Linked DNA regions of Homo sapiens. The protein of the gene in region 1 purifies or fractionates together with the protein of each later gene. This does not show direct contact. Each region holds a gene or a part of one and is shown in the gene's direction. Other genes may lie near its edges.

Region 1 (2,743 bases):
GTAAGGGACTTCACTATCTGCAGATTTTGGTATCCTTGAGGGACACTAGAACCAATCCCCCATGGATACCTAAGGATAAGTGTATCCACTCAATCCTTGGAGGTATCACTAGCAGCCAACAGTTTGCTTGCATATATTTCTAGAGTTTCTTTTCTTTACATATACTACGGCATTTTTTTTTTTTTGCCAACTGTAAATAGGATATTATAAATGCTTATGTCTTTGTTTTCTTCTTAGAACATAAAACTCAGCCTCATTGAGTTGTGACTTGAAAGCTCTGCCTCATTGTTCTCTCCCTCCAGGATCAGTGAGGAGGAGGACCTGCACCTGGGGACATCGTTTTCTGCAGAAACCAACCGAAGGGATGAGGATGCAGACATGTAAGTGTCAGTCTGTTTGGCTGTGAGCAGTTGGGGCTGGACTCCAGTCAGAGTCCAAGATATTTAGTCAACAGATGACATTTCTAGAATTTTCTAGAAGATGTCAAAGTTGGCCCCTCTCTTTCTACTTCCCAGCTTAAGAACTTTGAAAACCTCTTAAAAGGTCTTTTCAGGCCGGGCACGGTAGCTCTCACCTGTAGTCCCAGCACTTTGGGAGGCCGAGGCAGGTGGATCATCTGAGGTGGGGAGTTCGAGACCAGACTGACCAACATGGAGAAACCCCGTCCCTACTGAAAATACAAAATTAGCTGGGTGTGGTAGTGGGCACCTGTAATCCCAGCTACTCGGGAGGCTGAGGCAGGAGAATTGCTTGAACCTGGGAGGCAGAGCTTGCGGCGAGCCAAGATCTCGCCATTGCACTCCAGCCTGGGCAACAAGAGTGAAACTCCGTCTCCAAAATATAAAAAATAAAAACTTGTTTTCAAAGGTGGTTTCATGACTAGTAATATTTCCCCAAAACATTGCAGGGATAAAACATGGGCTTGCCCACTTTTTATTTTGCCAACAAAGCTATTGGCAAACTATCATCTTTCTGTCTTCAAAGAACCTTGTACATCATAACACCAATAGATTAGTGGGACATAACCTCATAGGTTGGTGCTTCTTTAGAAAATTTCTAACTTGATGAAAAAACTCAAGTTATTTTTTTTCTCGTTTCTCCATGGACTGTCACTGGTCTGCGGGCCAGTGTTGGGGACCACTGATTTAGAGGACACCTGGTGTGTGTTTCCCACCCCTCCCTGAGGCCTCTGGGTTTCTCACTTCAGGATGAAGTACATTGAGACAGAGCTAAAGAAGAGGAAAGGGATCGTGGAACATGAGGAACAGAAAGTTAAGCCAAAGAATGCAGAGGACTGTCTTTATGAACTTCCAGAAAACATCCGTGTTTCCTCAGCAAAGAAGACCGAGGAGATGCTTTCCAACCAGATGCTGAGTGGCATTCCTGAGGTGGACCTGGGCATCGAGTATGTTTGAGACCCCTAGGCAGAAGACACAGTGCTTTCCAGTTAAAAGTTATGGGGGACAGGCCAGGCACGGTGGCTCATGCCTGTAATCCTAGCACTTTGGGAGGCTGAGGCGGGTGGATCACGAGGTCAGGAGTTCAAGACCAGCCCGGCCAAGATGGTCGAACCCCGTCTCTACTAAAAATACAAAAATTAGCTGGGCATGGTGGCAGGCACCTGTAGTCCAGCTACTTGGGAGGCTGAGGCAGGAAATTGCTTGAACCCTGAAGGTGGAGGTTGCAGTGAGGCGAGATCATGCCACTGCACTCCAGTCTGGCGACAGAGCAAGACTCCATCTCAAAAAAAAAGGAAAAAAAAATTTATGGGGGACAGGTATGGTGGCTGATGCCTATAAGCCTATAATCCCAGTACTTGGGAGGCCAAGGCAGGAGGATCACGTGAGGCCAGGAGATCAGCCTGAGAAATATAGTCAGACTCCTGTCTCTCAAAAAAATTTAAAAAATTAGCTGGGCTGTCACTTGAGCTCAGGAGTTGAGGCTACAGTGAGCCATGATTGCACCACTGCACACCAGTCTGGGTGACAGAGTAAGACCCTTTAAAAAAAAAAAAAAAAGGCCAGACATGGTGACTTGTGCCTGTTATCCTAGCTCTTTGGGAGGCCAAGGTGGGAGGATCACTTGAGCCCAGGAGTTCAAGACCAGCCTGGGCAATGTAATGAGACCCCATGTTCTTATCTGTGTCCTTAGAATCCTACAAATACAAATGAGATTGTCCCTGGCAGGTTGTTGCTAGAAGTTTCGCTGAAGGCTTGATCAGAGTAGTAAGGGCCCCTGACTGCTGGAAGCAAAAGTGGTTCTTTAGCGTGTTACAGCTGTTCAGCTGTATCAGGCCCTTTATTCTTCTGTTTTCTTCTAGCAGGAGCCATGTTAAAGGCTCACTCACCCCTTCTCCCCATGATCCTTCTTAAAATATCCACTTTAAAAGGGAATTGTTATGGAAGAGGTACAATTGTTAGAATAATCTTCTGGTACAGTAGAAAGCTGGGAGGCTTCTGGGCTCTTTTCTGGCCTTTACAAACTTTGAGCCTTAAGCATTTTACTTCTCTGAAGCTCAATTTGCTCTTGATCAGAAGAGCAGAGTAACTGTGGTTCTCCGACAGCCGTGAGAGTCCCGTGAGAATGTGACTACAAGTGTGCTTGATAAAGTGGAGAGCTGTGCCCCAGGACACATGATTTTCTTATGTACTGCTGGGCTGCCAGCCTCACCACTCATGTCTGAGTAGTAAGGTGCTATCATCTTCTAAGTGGTGTGGTTTCTTTCTCTCCATAGTGCTAAAAT
Region 2 (3,500 bases), on another chromosome or scaffold:
TGGTCTTGAACTCCTGACCTCAAATAATCCGCCTGCCTTGGTCTTCCAAAGTGCTGGGATGGTAGGCGTGAGCCACCGCGCCTGGCCTAATTTTGTATGCTTGTAAGTTAACATTATGTGCCTTTGTATGGATTTGAAATATAAGGATAAAAATCAACCATATTTGTATATTCACTGAATAGCCACTATTCTGATGTATTTAACATCATATATATATGTATTTTTTTTTGTTGTTTTTTTTTTTTTGAGACGGAGTTTCACTTTTGTTGCCCAGGCTGGAGTGCAGTAGTGCAATCTTGGTTCACTGCAACCTCTGCCTCCCGGGTTCGAGTGATTCTTCTGCCTCAGCTTCCCAAGTAGCTGGGATTACAGGCATGCGCCAGCACACCGGCTAATTTTTGTAATTTTAGTAGAGATGGGGTTTCACCATGTTGGCCAGACTGGTCTCAAACTCCTGACCTCAGGTGATCCACCTGCCTTGGCCTCCCAGACTGCTGGGATTACAGGCGTGAGCCACCACGCCTGGCCAACATCCAGTATTTTTGAGTACATGGTTTTCATATACTTAGGCTATACATACATGTTCATGAATTGTATTCATTTAATTATGCTTCTGACTTTACTTGTTCTCCCTAGGGGAATATCAGTTATGCGTGCTTAGTAAAGTTGTGTTATTTTCCAAGATGAAAAATTGCATATATTTAAGAATCATTATTCAAGGGCATTGATTTGTGGGGGGTAGAAAGTTATTATGTGGCCTTTTGCTCATTAAAAACACTGGATCTTTATACTTCCTTTCAGAAGACAGATACTTCTCAGGAGTCAAAGGTAAGAGCTCTTTATAAAGTTTGAAGGAGACCTTTGAACCTTTCAGGTGAGGGGATACGTGCCCCTAGTGGATGGTGACCTCAGCCTTGCTTGTGTTGTATTGTTTTGGAGACAGGTCTTACTGTTGCCCAGGCTGGAGTGCAGTTGTGTGGTCTCAGCTCACTGCAGCCATGACCTCCCCAGCTCAAGTGATCCTCTCACCTCAACTTCATGAGTAGCTGGGAATATAGGTGCGCACCACCATGCCCAGCTAATACTTTCTATAGAAACAGGGTCTCAGTGTGTTGCCTAGGCCGGTGTCAAACCCCTGGCTTCAAGTGATCCTCCAGCCTCGACCTCCTGAAGTGACTGTGGGCCACTGCATCTGTCGTTTGTTTTTTTTGTTTGTTTTTGTTTTTGTTTTTGAGACGGAGTCTCGCTCACTTGCCCAGGCTGGAGTGCAGTGGCGCGATCTCGGCTCACTGCAAGCTCTGCCTCCTGGGTTCACGCCATTCTCCTGCCTGGCCTCCCGAGTAGCTGGGACTACAGGTGCCCGCCACCACACCCAGCTAATTTTTTGTATTTTTAGTAGAGACGGGGTTTCACCATGTTAGCCAGGATAGTCTCAATCTCCTGACCTCATCATCCGCCCTCCTCAGCTTCCCAAAGTGCTGGGATTACAGGTGTGAGCCACCATGCCCAGCCTGTCCTTTGTTCTGTTTTTGATCACTGAGCTATGGTTGAAGGGAAGTAAAAAAAAAAAACAAAAACAGACTTACTTTTTTTTTTTTTTTTTGACACAGGGTCTTACTTTGTCACCCAGGCTAGAGTACAGTGACGCAAACGTGGCTCACTGCAGCTTCAGCCTCCAGGCTTCAAGTGAGCCTTACCTCAACCTCATGAGTAGCTGGGACTATAGATGCACACCATCATGCCTGGCTAATTTTTGTATTTTTTTGGTTAGGGTATTTTTTTTATTTTATTTTATTTTTTGTTTTTTTGGTAGACACTAGTTTTGCCATGTTGCCCAGGCTGTTGTTTTAACTCCTGGGCTCAGTTGATTCACCCACCTTGGCCTCCCAAAGTGCTGGTATTGCAGGTGTGTGCCACTGCACCCAGCCTTGGGAAGTAAAATGATAAGATTTGGGGTTTTGTGAAAAAGATAAAATGGCCACACATGCCAGTATGGTCTTGTTGTTGGATGTTGAGAATGTCATTGTTTGAGAAGTGATTGTGTTCCCTACCTGTGACTGTTACATGAGTATATTCTTAAAAAATAATTTTCTTAGAATTAGAAAATGGGAGTTCAGTTATAACCACTGATTCCTTACCTGTTACCGAGGACTTCATGGTCCAAAGTTACTTCTTTTCTGGTAGGCGCAAGCAAACTGTCGAGTAGGAGTTGCAGCACTGAATACTCTAGCAGGCTATATTGACTGGGTGTCTATGAGTCACATCACTGCTGAAAACTGTAAACTCCTGGAGATACTGTGTTTGCTGTTGAATGAACAGGAACTTCAGTTGGGAGCCGCTGAGTGTCTTCTCATTGCAGTCAGCAGAAAAGTAAGTTACCACTTCAAACTGACTTATCCTCAGTCTCTGAAGTAGGCTGTGTATGTGTTTAATTGCATGTTGTGGCAGAAAGTCATTTAAAGGTTTGGGTTTTTTTCCTTGGGGCCAACTTACTGCCTGCTTCCAACCCCCTTGGACAGGAGTTTGCCAATATTCAAGGGATCCTTTGGCAGAATGTGGAGATTTATCAGGCTGCATGGTTCTTGAAATAGCCATGATACTTGGCAATTTACAGTTAACAGATAAAAGTAAATGTTTAAGTTTAAAGCTCACTTAATGAATGTCAAGGAATCTTGGATGGTGGCTACAGTAGGTTTATATCTGTCTTTTTTTTTTTTTTTTTTTTTTAATTGAAACAGTCTTGCTCTGTCACCCAGGCTGGAGTGCAGTGGCGTGATGTTGGCTCACTGCAACGTCCGCCTTCCGGGTTCAAGCGATTCTCCTGCCTCAGCTTCCCGAGTAGCTAGGACTATAGGCACACGCCACCATGCCCGACTGATTTTTGTATTTTTTAGTAGAGATGAGGTTTTGCCATGTTAGCCAGGCTCTTCTCGAACTCCTGAGCTCAAGTGATCTGCCCTCCTCAGCCTCCTAAAGTGCTGGGATTACAGGCGTGAGCCACTGCGCCAAGCCTATGTCTGTCTTGGCTAACCAATGGAACTGTGACTCTTTTCTCCATAGGAATATTATCTACAAATGTAATTTACTTTGCTGTCATATCAGCATTATTGCCCAACACATTTATTTATTTATTTATTTATTTTTTGAGATGGAGTCTCGTTCTGTTGTCTAGGCTGGAGTGCAGTGGCGCAATCTCAGCTCAGTGCAACCTCTGCCTCCCGGGTTCAAGCAATTCTCCTGCCTCAGCCTCCTGAGTATCTGGGATTACAGGCGTGTGCCACCACACCCAGCTAATTTTTGTATTTTTTAGTAGAGATGGGGTTTCACTATGTTGGCCAGGCTGGTCTCGAACTTTTGACCTCAAGTGATCCACCTGCTTTGACCTCCCAAAGTGCTAGGATTACAGGTGTGAGCCACGGCACCTGGCCTAATTTTTGTATTTTTAGTAGAGACAGGGTTTCACCATGTTGACCAGGCTGGTCTCGAACTCCTGATCTCAG
Region 3 (3,500 bases), on another chromosome or scaffold:
TTGAGATGGAGTCTCGCTCTGTCGCCCAGGCTGGAGTGCAGTGGCACGATCTCGCCTCACTGCAAGCTCTGCCTTCCGGGTTCACGCCATTCTCCTGCTTCAGCCTCCCAAGTAGCTGGGACTACAGGTGCCCGCCACTGCACCCAGCTAATTTTTTGTATTTTTAGTAGAGACAGGGTTTTACTGTGGTCTCGACCTCCTGACCTCGTGATCTGCCCGCCTTGGCCTCCTAAAGAGCTGGGATTACAGGCGTGAGCCACTGTGCCCGGCGACAAAATTCTTATCTGTAGAAACCTATATTTATGACTGATATTGGATCAGTTTCCTAACAGTTGGAATCACATAACACAAAACATGCAAGTTGCTTAGTTGCTTTAGTTACAAAATTTTACGATAAGCCCAGAGTATTTGTGTAGGTTACATATTAGAAACTTAGTGGATTTATTTTATTTTTTATTTTTATTTTTTTGAGATGGAGTTTCGCTCTTTCTCCCAGGCTGGAGTGAAGTGGTGTGATCTCGACTCACTGCAGCCTCCACCCTGTGCCCCTGCCGGGTTCAAGCGAGTCTCCTTGCCTCAGCCTCCTGGGTAGCTGGGACTACAGGTGTGTGCCATCACGCCCAACTAATTTTTGTATTTTTAGTAGAGATGGGGTTTTGCCATGTTGGCCAGGCTGGTCTCGAACTCCTGACCTCAGGTGATCCCCTTCCCTTGGCCTCCCAAAGGGCTGGGATTATAGGCATGAGCCACCATGCCCGGCCAACTTAGTGGATTTTTAACCTGGCCTGGGGTGTGGACTGCTGCAGAAGGTGAAGAAATTAGTCCATGTTCAGTGATTTAAAAATCAATTGTCTTGGCCGGGCACGGTGGCTCACACCTGTAATCCCAGCACTCTGGGAGGCCGAGGCGGGCGGATCACGAGGTCAGGAGATCGAGACCATCCTGGCTAACACGGTGAAACCCCATCTCTACTAAAATACAAAAAATTAGCTGGGCGTGGTGGCGGGAGCCTGTAGTCCCAGCTGCTCAGGAGCCTGAGGCAGGAGAATGGCGTGAATCTGGGAGGCGGAGCTTGCAGTGAGCTGAGATTGCGCCACTGCACTCCAGCCTGGGCAACAGAGCAAGACTCTGTCTCAAAAAAAAAAAAAAAAAAAAAAAAAAAGGCTGGGCGCGGTGGCTCACGCCTGTAATCCCAGCACTTTGGGAGGCAGAGGCGGGCAGATCATGAGGTCAGGAGATCGAGACCATCCTGGCTAACCCAGTGAAACCCCGCCTCTACTAAAAATACAAAAAATTAGCCGGGCGTGGTGGCGGGTGCCTGTAGTCCCAGCTACTCGGGAGGCTGAGGCAGGAGAATGGTGTGAACCCGGGAGGCGGAGCTTGCAGTGAGCCGAGATCGCGCCACGCACTCCAGCCTGGGTGACAGAGCGAGGCTCCGTCTCAAAAAAAAAAAAAAAAAAAAATTAGTTGTCTTTCACATTAGTGTGGTCTAGCTGGTTTTGAAAATTTGTTATTATACAGAAGTTTCTCTAGGCCCAAAATTTATTTCATTCCCTGTCCCCTCCCTTTACACTGGATACTTGAGAGCAGTGGACTTTTGTAGATATTTCATATTTTGATCCTCTCCGTTTGTGGATAATTAATTAAAATGAATTATAAGTTTATGTGTGTGACTACTATTTATGATTATGAGTGTGTAGTGGTTGGTACAATAATTGGGTATTCTTTTTTTTTTTTTTTTTTTTTTGAGATGGAGTCTTGCTCTGCCACCCAGGCTGGAGTGCAGTGGCGGGATCTTGGCTCACTGCAGCCTCTGCCTCCCGGGTTCAAGCAATTCTCCTGCCTCAGCCTCCTGAGTAGCTGGGACTACAGGCACGCGCCGCCATGCCTGGCTGATTTTTTTGTATTTTTAGTGGAGATGGGGTTTCACCATATTGGCCAGGATGGTCTTGATCTCCTGACCTCATTCCATCTTCCTCGGCCTCCCAAAGTGTTGGGATTACAGGCGTGAGCCACCGTGCCCAGCTGGGCTTTCTCTTATGGAAATATTTTACCTGTGCCAGAGAAACTAAGTTTATCATTCAAGGCCAGAAATCAGGATATCCTAGCCAACCCCTGGCCTCTACTAACAAAATATACATGTTGGAGATAACTAAATTGGCACTAAGTGAATAGTTGCCAATATAGTAGTTTGTTTGGCAGATTAAAAATTTGGCACCTGAATGGTTATTGTCAATTCTGTGTTACAAATTTTTTGCCCAAATTCTGCATATTTTCTCTCTTTTTTTTTTTTTTTTTTTTTGAGATGGAGTTTCGCTCTTGTTGCACAGGCTGAAGTGCAGTGGCATGATCTCGGCTCACCGCAGCCTCTGCCCCCCCAGGTTCAAGCAATTCTCCTGCCTTAGCCTCCCAAATAGCTGGGATTACAGGCATGCGTCACCACGCCCAGCTAATTTTTTCTGTTTTTAGTAGAGACGGGGTTTCTCCATGTTGGTCAGGCTGGTCTCGAACTCCCGACCTCTGGTGATCCACCCACCTCAGCCTCCCAAAGTGCTGGGATTATGGGCGTGAGCCACCGAGCCACCGTGCCTGGCTTCTTTTTTTTTTTTTTTTTTTTTTTTGAGACGGAGTTTTGCTCTTGTTGCCCAGGCTGGAGTGCAATGGCGCGATCTCGGCTCACCGCAACCTCTGCCTCCCAGGCTCAAGTGTTTCTCTTGCCCCAGCCTCCAGAGTAGCTGGGATTACAGGCGCGCACCACCAAGCCCAGCTAATTTTTTGTATTTTTAGTAGAGAGATGGTTTCATCATGTTGGCTAGGCTGGTCTCAAACTCCTGACCTCAGGTGATCCACCCGCCTTGGCCTCTCAAAATGCTGGGATCACAGGCATGAGCCACCGTGCCTGGCCATTTTCTGCATATTTTCTATGTAATCATTTTGGCCAACACTGTGGCTCACTCCTGTAATCTTAGCACTTTGGGAGGTGGAGGTGGGAGAATTGCTTGAGCACAGGAGTTTGATACCAGTGTGGGCAACATAGCAAGACCCTGTCTCCAGGAAAAAAAAAAGGAAGAAATTTTCTTAAAAAAAATTCATATATATAAAATTAAATTCAAAATATTGGTGATAAGGAATTGAATTTGTTCAGATTTTCTGTTTTTTGAAATGTATCTGTGAGGAAAGAAGTATAACAGTTTTGTATGCTAAGCTTTGTCTAATTCATCTGGCAATGAATTCTGCAGTGAATTTTCCAGATAACTGAAGTTTACCCTTTGAGGCCCTTAGACATTTTTAAAAAAGTTTACTAGGCTGGGTGTGGTGGCTCACGCCTGTAATCCCAGCACTTTGGGAGGCTGAGGTGGGTGGATCATGAGGTCAGAAGTTTGAGACCAGCCTGGACAACATGGTGAAACCCCGTCTCTACAAAAAAATACAAAAATTAGCCGGGCGTGGTGGCACATGCCTGTAATCCCAGCTACTCGGGAAGCTGAGACAGGAGAATT
Region 4 (3,500 bases), on another chromosome or scaffold:
GTCCTAGCCTCCTGGGTGCGTGTTGAGTGCAGCGGCTCCCAAGGACCCAGCCGGTTCTTGCTGGGCACGTTCTGTGCTGGACATGGTGCTAGGCCTCTGTCCACGTCTCCCTCAGCCGTGGCAGAAGACTGGGTCTTACTGCCACGTGCAGAGACAGTTTGCATCTGCCCGTGTCCCTGACCAGCCCTGAGTGGGAGTCAGTGCTTCCGAAAGCTGGGCCAGCCCAGGCCGACCCCATCAGCCTCTGGCGGCCACTGGCGCAGGAGGGCAGGCTCTCTGACCACATGTCAGGAGCCATCCTGTCACGCTGGGGCCCTTCTCCGGCAGGGTAAGGATGCATGTCTGTTGCTGAAGCCTGTCTTCACCCATCAAGTGGTGTTCAGACCTAGTCACTGCCAGAAAGAAGCAATTCAGCTTGTTCACAGGGCGCCCTCCTTTGAAACAGCGGCTCTGTGCCTAGGTGCACCCTCTCCCGTGGTTCCCACTGCTGGTGCTCATGTTTTCCCAGGGGGGCCCTTGCAGGACCTGCACTCCTGAGAAGAGGGGCTAGGGCTCCCCATCTGCCCTGTTGTCCCCAGCCCCTCACGTTGTGGCAGGCAGGGATGTCGAGGCGCATTTCATTTCTATGTGGTTGACCCTTTGTGGGTGTTGAATTGAGTAATCATCTTTGCCGTAGATGCTAGCTTCTATGCATGTCTTTAGTTGAGTGTTTGCGCTAAAGTGTATCTTTCTGGTTTTGTTTTTTAAAATGTCCTTGCTAGTCTCTGGAACTTAAAAGAAAGATGCTTCGAGACAAGCAGAACAAAAAAAATTCAGGCCAGCACCTCCCCATCTTCCCAGCATGGGTGTATGAGAGACCTGCCCTGATCGGGGATTTCCTGATTGGTGCTGGCATCAGCACAGACACCGCTTTGCCGATAGGTACGTGATGCGTTGATTTCCGGGCTCTGCCGATAGGTACGTGATGCGTTGATTTCCGGGCTCTGCCGATAGGTATGTCATGTGTTTATTTCTGGCCTCTGGGCAGGACACTTTGCAGGCCCAGCCCTCCCCCGGGCCTGCCTTTCCTCAGGTTGTGAGGCTCAATGCTGACTGGCTGCCGCCTCCATATTCCCATCCCAGGATGGCAGCAGAGAACGGCTCACCCGGGTCCTTGAGGGTTCTTCTCCTGTCCCTTCTGCCAGAGCTGTGGGGCAGCCTGCAGCAGGCCCCTCCCCAGCCGGCATCCTGGTGCCCTGGTGCAGACCTGCAGGCATCAGAATTGTGTGCAGCACTTATTTCTGAACAGCGATTCATGACTCCCATAGATTCTGTTACAGCAGTATTCTCAGAGGCCTCTTAAGTAGTGTTCGTGTAAACAAGATGCGGGTGAGACCACACAGTCATTTCAAGACGTTGTTATTGGGGACCTGGGATGTGTTCATCTGTCACAATTCATGGGTACATTTTTATTTTTATTTATTTTTAGTTCTTTTGAGATGGAATCTCGCTCTGTCGCCCAGGCTGAAGTGCAGTGGCGTGATCTCGGCACACTGCAACCTCCACCTCCCAGGTTGAAGCGATTCTCCTGCCTCAGCCTCCCAAGTAGCTGGGACTGCAGGCGCCACCACGCCTGGCTAATTTTTATATTTTTAGTAGAGACGGGGTTTTGCCGTGTTGGCCAGACTGGTCTCGAACTCCTGACCTCTGGTGATCTGCCCACCTTGGCCTCACAAAGTGCTGGGATTACAGGCATGAGCCACCACGCCTAGTCAAGTACATTTTTAGATTGAAAAATGAGATTTCACAAACTAAGGACAGAGCATACCTGCTTATCTTGCCCCATCCCCGTTAGTCCAAACTCAAGAGGCAGCATGGAGCGTGGTCTGCTTCCCCACTACTCACGGCTCTGCAATGTGGGCACCAAGGGGCCAACCCTTGCCTTTGCCGGAAACCCTGGAGAACGGTGACGTGAAATCCACCTGTTTTCCTCATCCCCAAGCAAACAGAACCCTGCTGTAAGTTAATGAAAAGTATAGAAAAACCCTGCTGTAAGTTATGAGAAGTATAGAAAACCATGCTGTAAGTTAATGAAAAGTATGGAAAACAGTCTACTTCGGCCAGGCATGGTGGCTCACACCTGTAATCCCAGCACTTAGGGAGGTGAGGTGCGTGGATTCCTTGAGCCCAGGAATTCGAGACCAGCCTGGGCGACAGGACGAGACTAGTCTCTACAAAAAATGTGAAAATTAGCCGAGTGTGGTAGCGTGCACCTGTAGTCCCAGCTACTCAGGAGGCTGAGGTGGGAGGATCACTTGAGCCTGAGAGGTCGAGGCTGCAGTGAGCTGTGATCGTGCCACTGCACTCCAGCCTGGGCAACAGAGCGAGACCCTGTTTCAAAAAAAAAAAAACAAAGCAGTCTGCTTTGTGCAGTGTTTTCAGTAATAATCCAACTGTGAAAACCCAACTGTGAAGACTTAGGGAGAGAGAGCTGCTCCCTTAGCGGGTACTCAGCAGGCAGCCGGGGAGTGGTGGGCACCTGAGAGCTCCTGATGGTACCCAGGCAGACTTCGGAGAAGGAAGCGCGGGGCCCTGCTGCCTGGGATCCCAGCAGTGGAGCCGGCTTTTTGGAGCAGGAGGCACTGAGGGGGTGTTCAGGCTTTCCCCCCATGTTTCCCCATTCAGGGAAGGGGTTGTACAAAAGAGGAACGCACTGTCCAGTAACGCTGCGGCGCCGTGGGCAGCTCTGAGCGTGGCGGTGATTGGCAGCAAGTGTGTGAGACTTGGCTGTGAACCCTGCAGCCAGCTCTCAGGTCAGGGTGCAGGTGCCCTCAGCACACTCAGCATCCCAGGAAAGGGGCGGCCTCGCCCCACCTCCCTCCCACGGCCACATACCACAGGTCCCAGGGGTGCCTCCGGTATTGAGGCTGCCTTGCCTCCCTTTGTCCGCACTGTCCCTGTCCCCTTGTGCCACCTGTGCAGACTTGAGAATGGAGCTCACTGTGGTGTTCATGCCGGGGCCTGTCTAGCTCCTCACCCCACGATTTGACCAGTGCCACACCACGGGACCTTGTGTGACCTCGGGCCTGCGTCCTCTGGAAAACAGCTGTGGAGTGGTGTGATGAGGACAGGTGCCTTGGAAAGCATCAGGACCTTGTGAGCACGAGGCAGCTGCCAGCACTCCACGTTCCCGCCATGCTCTCCTCACCGTGTGGGCATCCACCTGGCCAGCGCCGCCTCCGCAGTGCCCCTCCCTCTGGTCGCTCCCGCGCAGCATGCGAAGGTGTTATCTGCCCGCGTCCTGCCTTTTCCCCACACCGGCACGGAGGAGCCACGTGTTCGGTGGTCGTTCGGACGTGGTGATTTGCAGGTGACATCGCAGGTGTTGAGATGACACTGAGGATGTTGAATATTGGGGAGGTGAAGCAACTGACTCTTTTTTTGCTTGAGACAGGGTCTCACTTCGTTGCCTAGGCTGGAGTGCAGTGGCACAATCTCAGCTCACTGCAGCCTCGACCTCC

What was found.
Region 2: the proteins of C9orf78 (region 1) and XPO5 purify together in Homo sapiens (affinity purification with mass spectrometry, with the first as the bait; one large-scale study listed by BioGRID). This does not show direct contact.
Region 3: the proteins of C9orf78 (region 1) and NPEPPS purify together in Homo sapiens (affinity purification with mass spectrometry, with the first as the bait; one large-scale study listed by BioGRID). This does not show direct contact.
Region 4: the proteins of C9orf78 (region 1) and TUBGCP2 purify together in Homo sapiens (affinity purification with mass spectrometry, with the first as the bait; one large-scale study listed by BioGRID). This does not show direct contact.

The regions. Positions count from the first base shown.
Region 1 is NC_000009.12:129,829,533-129,832,275, reverse strand, and holds part of C9orf78 (splicing factor C9orf78), read left to right. Parts: intron 1-302; coding exon 303-380; intron 381-1,207; coding exon 1,208-1,405; intron 1,406-2,734; coding exon 2,735-2,743. UniProt on the Homo sapiens protein: Plays a role in pre-mRNA splicing by promoting usage of the upstream 3'-splice site at alternative NAGNAG splice sites; these are sites featuring alternative acceptor motifs separated by only a few nucleotides. May also modulate exon inclusion events.
Region 2 is NC_000006.12:43,566,039-43,569,538, reverse strand, and holds part of XPO5 (exportin-5), read left to right. Parts: intron 1-801; coding exon 802-828; intron 829-2,184; coding exon 2,185-2,370; intron 2,371-3,500. UniProt on the Homo sapiens protein: Mediates the nuclear export of proteins bearing a double-stranded RNA binding domain (dsRBD) and double-stranded RNAs (cargos). XPO5 in the nucleus binds cooperatively to the RNA and to the GTPase Ran in its active GTP-bound form.
Region 3 is NC_000017.11:47,534,108-47,537,607, forward strand, and holds part of NPEPPS (puromycin-sensitive aminopeptidase), read left to right. Parts: intron 1-3,500. UniProt on the Homo sapiens protein: Aminopeptidase with broad substrate specificity for several peptides. Involved in proteolytic events essential for cell growth and viability. May act as regulator of neuropeptide activity.
Region 4 is NC_000010.11:133,295,373-133,298,872, reverse strand, and holds part of TUBGCP2 (gamma-tubulin complex component 2), read left to right. Parts: intron 1-761; coding exon 762-921; intron 922-1,468; coding exon of another isoform or gene 1,469-1,552; intron 1,553-3,500. UniProt on the Homo sapiens protein: Component of the gamma-tubulin ring complex (gTuRC) which mediates microtubule nucleation.